Linked DNA regions of Homo sapiens. The gene in region 1 interacts genetically with each later gene. Each region holds a gene or a part of one and is shown on either strand. Other genes may lie near its edges. The genes, in order: FBXO8 and PTAR1.

Region 1 (2,848 bases):
TAGTACATCACCCCCTGCCCATCTTTAGGTAAAAACAGAGATATATGAGACATTTGTCTCACTGTGGGGAAAAATATTCTCAGTAATTACAAATACTTGTTTTACTGTTTGTAGCAGTGACTGACTACTTCATCATTTATGGGAGCTTGGAAAAAACAGTTTGTCATAGCTATGGTGTGCGTGTGTGTGTGTGTGTGTGTGTATATATATATATACATGGCTATGTATATATAGCCATTTATATTTTTTATATATTACCTACAAATTTATATATAAATATATATATTACAAATTTATATGTATACAAATGTCTATGTCTATATACACATATAGACATACACATAGACTGTGTCTATGTCTATATACACATATAGACATATAGACATTTGTATATATATAAAGTTGTTATATATGTCTGTTTGTGTGTACTTCTATCTATATGTGTATGTTTGTATGCTTATGATATAGCCTGAATCTTCTACATATTGTTTCAATTCATATAGCTTATCTTTTCATATCAAAAATTTTATTGTGCTTATCTGATTAAACAGAAATTACAAAACTGTTCCTGTCGTGTGAAATTTGTTGAGCATGCTTTACAAGACATAATGTTCAACTTGGCTTTCTTAAGACTGCAGGATTCCGAAATATCAGCACTATAGTAGTAGAACTATTATGACGATTGTTACTATTTTAATATTAAACATCAAATATTACCCTAGGCATATATAAAATCTTGTTGCATGGTGCTCAGGTGTAGCAGTCTTTTCCCTAAAGATTTGCTTTCAAAATTAATATGTAAGTTCCACAGGCCTTTATAACATCTTAAATGAGAATATTAATAATCTTTTGAGTTATTTACATTTTATTTTCTAGTACCAGATTCATGTTTTCTTGTCATTAAAGATGCTCTCAAATTAAAATAGGTTTTTATGAAAGCATTCTATATAAATTTTTTTTTAGAAAGAGGAGATAAATACAAATGTATTTTATGGATGTTTGAATAGAAATATCACATTTGAAAGCAAAGACGAAAATAAAGCCAATTCTAAATTTTTTAAATCTAGAATGAATTTTTACTATACACTCCTAAACTGTTCTAAAGTTCTTTTGAAATGAAGGAAATGCATGCTTAGTTAGTATTAAGATAGGATGATAACCATCCTGGTTTGCTCAGGATTGAGTTTCCCAGGATGACAGGACTTTCAGTGCAAAACTGGGAAGAGTCTAGACAAACTGGGATGGATTGGTCACTCTGTATTTATGAGCTAATCTTGATATCTTGAAATTATGAACATTTTTGCCTTATATAATGCCATTGGAATCATATTTTGTAAACCAACTAATAATTTGAACTGTTTCTTTTTCTTTCCAGATGCTGTCTATGTACTGTGCTACTCTTTGATTCTACTTTCCATTGACCTCACTAGCCCTCATGTGAAGAATAAAATGTCAAAAAGGGAATTTATTCGAAATACCCGTCGCGCTGCTCAAAATATTAGTGAAGATTTTGTAGGGCATCTTTATGACAATATCTACCTTATTGGCCATGTGGCTGCATAAAAAGCACAATTGCTAGGACTTCAGTTTTTACTTCAGACTAAAGCTACCCAAGGACTTAGCAGATATGGGGGTTACATCAGTGCTGGTCATTGTAGCCTGAGTATACAATCAAGCTTCAGTGTGCAACCTTTTTTTCTTTTGCCATTTTCTATTTTAGTAATTTCCTTGGGGAACTAAATAATTTTGCAGAATTTTTCCTAATTTTGTTTATCACGTTTTGCACAAAGCAGAGCCACTGTCTAACACAGCTGTTAACGAATGATAAACTGACATTATACTCTAAAAGATGGTGTATTTGTGCATTAGATTTGCCTGAAAAACTTTATCCATTTCCATTCTTTATACAAATACCATGTAATGTGTACATATTTAACTAAAGAGATTTATAGTCATAATTATTTTATTGTAAAGATTTTAACTAAAGTTTTTCCTTTTCTCTCAAACTGAGTTCTGAAATTTATTTGATTCTGATCTGAAACTATTGTCTTCGTAAAAGTTAGATCTGACTTCAGACAGAAACCAATACCAGCTTCCTTTTCCTTTAAACTTTGAAGAGTGTTGATTTGTTACTATATTACTATGCAAAACTGGCAGTTATTTTTATAATATAAATTTATAATTTGATTTTTTATTTTAAAAACTGGGTTAATCAAGTCTCGGTAAGTCCTTTAAACCATTTAGGATTTTTAAAACATCAAAATTTATGATTTACATTCATAGGAATAAAATAAAATATTATTAGAACTCTGGTAAATGTTTGCTTGCTTATATGTGGTGTGATTATGCAAACTTTACTATTTTTGTAATCTTGATGATCCCCGTTCAGAGTCCATTGAGAAAGACATATTGTGAAGAACAGTAAACACTCTTTACTCATTGGTTCAGTGAATGTCTATCCAGGGCTTTACATGTGTTAACATTGTGCGAGGTACTAGACATGGGCCCTGCTCTCACAGATAATACATAACTGGGTACTGAGAAGAAAAAATCTGCTGAATGGAGAGCAACTATATGAAGTATATCTTAATTAACAATTATTTAATAGTTAAAATATGCAGCATTAGAATGATAGAGAACAGTGTAGTTATATGGTAAGTTAAAAGTGACCTCCAAGTAAAAAGCATAACCTTAGGAATGAAATAGTATGTGATGGGTTGAGCTACTAGTTTAGAGGAGGGAGTTGAGGGAGGTAAAAACTCCTTACTAGAGGTATTGAATCCTGGCTTCCTTCCAGATCTGACCCTTAGTCAAAAGTGGTTGTCAATATTACAACTGGAATGTTGTA
Region 2 (3,938 bases), on another chromosome or scaffold:
TGTGCTGTTCCATATGGTAGCCACTAGCCATAGTAGCTATTGAGCAATTGAAGTGTCCCTAATATGAACAGGGACCACATTTTAAATTTTATTTAATTTAAATGGATTTGTACGTAGTGGCTCCATGTGCCTAGTGACTACTGTGATGCATAGTGCAGGTGTAGATGAGACCTAAGACTAACTGCATGAACAGTAAATTAACCCTCCAAAGTAGTTTATAGTAAAAGTTGGATAGGAGCATGATGAGCAAGTGCTATGGGAGTCTAATAGAAGTGGAGAGGAGGCTGGTTATGTCTCGGATAGGGGTGCTAGTGGAGGTGGGTTTTAAGCCAAGTATTAAAGTCTGGGTAGGATTTGTAGTCTCAGAGGGAGCCAGAGACCTCCACAGGGAGCAGTGAATTGACCTAAACAAGCAAAGTGTGGCTGAGAAGGTACAGTAGGGCCAGATTATGGAGATCCTTGACTCTCATTTAATTTCTTTCATTCCATTCATACATTCTGCAAAAGAGTACCTCCATTTGACAGGCACAATGCTGGTCTCTGGGTATACAGGGTTAAAAACTGGGTGGTTTAATGAACAAACCACACATGGTCCCTATCCTAATGGAACTTTAATCAGTCAACATACAGATTATGAAAAGAGTCATAAAAAGTAAGAAGGGTACTTAGAATAAAAACAGGGAGACCCAATTTAGATTATAAGGTCAAGAGGTTCTTTCTGAGGCAATAGCATTTAAACTGAGTGAGACATGAGGGGTGAAGAAAAGCTGGCTCAAGGATGTACACTTCTAAGGCAATGGGTAGGCACCAGTGAACATTTTTTAGTAAAGAATGATGAAAGGCAATTTTAGATCGTCTGCAAGGTGAACTGAAGAATAGAAAGCCAGAGTCTACTGGGCTTCTTATACCTGATTTTTATTTATTTAAATAATAGTGTAGTATAGTTGTAAAAATTTGAGTTTAGAGTTTGATAGTCTAAGCTGTCAAACTGGATTTGAGTCTTTGCTTGTCGTTTATTAACTGAGTAGACTTAGACAAGACTCTTCCTCTGTAAAATGGGGTCAAAATTCCTACTTTATGAGATTATTGTGCAGAATAAAATATATGTAAAACCTAACCGTGCATGGCAAGTAACAATAAACACTAGTAATTTGTGTAGCTTTTTCTAAATAAGGTCAGTAATATAATTTCAGTGAAACATAAGTTGATAATCTTTGGAATTAATGAGAAAGCCTATAAGGTTTCTGAAATATCTAAATCACCAGGAGAATTTTAATTATCAATATGCAACGGTCAGTTCCTTTAGATATATTTTACTAGCTTTCCTTTTTGGTCATGCTGGAAAGAATTCCAGTTCTTTTGGGGGGTGGGAGCAGAACAAAATGAAAATAACTACTATTTAGATTTAAAATGTTTTTACCATTTCCTGAATCCTTGGACTGTTTTCTGTTTGGTTGCTCCACACTATAGGATTCAGTTTGAGTATTTGGGTACCATCCATCCCTCCCAGAAGGTAAGCTGGTTGATGCAACTTTTGTGGATAATAAGTGGCTCTGTTCTGGTTGATGGTGTTTCTGAGAAGTATAGACAGAGAAGCTGTCTAAACATAAGGAACAAAGTCAGTATCAGTGTTACATGAACTGTGAACATCATCTGGAAGCCAATGAATGGATCCCTATTGTGAAGTGAGGCGCTCAAAGAGATGTATCATACTTTGATCTTAAGTAAATGTGCTGGTTCGTTCCACATTGCTCTGCCTTTGGAGCAGTCTGTGATGAAGGTGACCTAAAAAGTGAGCACCATTAGAACTTGATTGCTGTCCCAAACCATCATATCTTTAAAAATCCTATGATCTTCTTAGTTATGCAGGTAATTGAATACCTTGTTAAATACCAGGAATGTAAATGGCCAGAAACCTAACAGTGTAAAAGAGTGAAATTTATTAGTAGTTCCTCTCATAAGACTATTTTGTAAAGAAATAACTAGAGATATGTTTGATATTTATAGCACATTCATTGCAACCATTAAAAATATCAAAATTGATTATGTGGGAAAATGTTTAATGGGAATTGCTCAGTTTTTTTCCATAAAGGATTATAGAATATGTTCAATATGATCCCACTTTTTGAAAATACTCAGGAAAAAAGGATGTATACCCAGCTGGGCACAGTGACTCACACCTGTAATCCTAACACTTTGGGAGGCTCAGTGGGAGGATCACTTGAGGCCAGGAGTTTGAGACCAGCCTGGTCAACATAGTGGGACTACATCTCTACCAAAAAAAAAAAATATATATATATATATTAGCTGGGCATGGTGGTGCATACCTGTAGTCCCAGCTACTCAGGAGATCTGAGGTGAGAGGATTTCTTGAGCCCAGGAGTTGGAGGCTGCAGTGAGTGAGGATTGCACCACTTCACTCCAGCCTGGACGACAGAGCAAGATCCTGTCTCAGGAAAAAAAAAAAAAAAAAAAAAAAGATATATACCCAAACATGTTAATAGCAAAACAGGGATTACAAGTGACTTTTAGGGTTTTTTTTGTTTTGTTTTGTTTTTCCTGAGTTTTCCAGTGTTTCTTTAGTATGGAATTAGAACTTAAATTTCCAGAAAAATAGAAGGAATTGATCTAAATCCTGTTTTGCTCTTTGTTCTAGTGTCAGGGGTTTGGGGCTAAGTATTAGGAGGCCCAGATTCTTAACTTAGCCACTAGCAATATGACCTTAGATAATCCTCATAAACCTCACTGTACCTCAGTTTCCTCATCAGATGAAATGACAGAGGAATGCAGTCCCTTCCAACTTTAAAATGATTTTGGAAGGAATCCTATTCGAAATTGGCTAGAAAAAAGTGGACTGTGACTTAAGGGATGAGACACAGAAGTCTGAAGTCAAACACACTATTATTTGGAAGCTTACTGACCTACCTATGTTTACAAAGTATGTGTAATGTTTTTTAGAAAGCAGCATAACACTGTGTCTTAGGGTCACATAACTTGACAAAGGCTTAAATTCTTTGCCTCGGCTTTCCATTATTAACCAATGAACTCTACTGGTGGATCTTTGTCTAGCACTTCATAGTTTGCCACATTTTCACATGACATTATTTGGTTTCCATAACAGGCAGGGAAGATACTATTCCTGTGTTTCAGATGAGGATACTGATGGCAAGTGACTTGCCGAATTCTCATTGCCTGTCAGTGGATAGAATGGAAACTAACTAGAACTCTGGACTTCCAATCAAGTACTTTTGTCTTTACACCCTACTACCTCTTCATGTGTTTTTCCCCCTAGTGCTCTACATTATCTGTTAAGACTGTTTTTATTCTCCTCACATGAAAATAGCTGCTAGGTTTCTCAGTCATAAAATTTGAAAGCTGGGTGAAATCTATCCCATTTGCCTTACTGGAGGTATAATACAATTCTACCATTTTACAAATGAGGAAACTGAAGTCTACAGAAGCCAAAATGACCTGATACTGATATGTATGTATATGTGTGTGTGTATATATCTATTTCCATCCAGGACTTGGACACATGCTGTTTTCAGTATACTTTATTAGGAGAAAATCAGAGATAATGTTCTTTTAGAGGGACAAGAAGTGAAAACTATTAATTTGAATATTATCACTAAAGTACCAGGATAATCAGCCTTTCAGGAAGCAGCTATTGGGCACCTGCTATATCCAAGCCATTCTTATTTTATAAAGTATTTCTTGAAAGAACAGACAGTCAAAGCAGTGTGTTTTTTAATTGTGCAGATGGCTCTTTTCTGTAGTTTAGATACCAAATTATTAGCTGGGCATTTTAATCCTAGTTTAATTAGTGAGCAAGACAGGTTTTTATATTGTGAATTTAAGTTTAAAAAAAAAATCCCCCCCAAAAACAAACCATACCCAGAAACAGGATTCTTTTATTCTTGTTACTATAACAGTTATAT

Evidence for each region.
Region 2: changes in FBXO8 (region 1) and PTAR1 are lethal when combined (synthetic lethality), as found in Homo sapiens cells (one study listed by BioGRID).

The regions. Positions count from the first base shown.
Region 1 is NC_000004.12:174,236,127-174,238,974, reverse strand, and holds the end of FBXO8 (F-box only protein 8), read left to right. Parts: intron 1-1,375; coding exon 1,376-1,563; 3' UTR 1,564-2,317; downstream 2,318-2,848. UniProt on the Homo sapiens protein: May promote guanine-nucleotide exchange on an ARF. Promotes the activation of ARF through replacement of GDP with GTP.
Region 2 is NC_000009.12:69,753,074-69,757,011, reverse strand, and holds part of PTAR1 (protein prenyltransferase alpha subunit repeat-containing protein 1), read left to right. Parts: intron 1-3,938.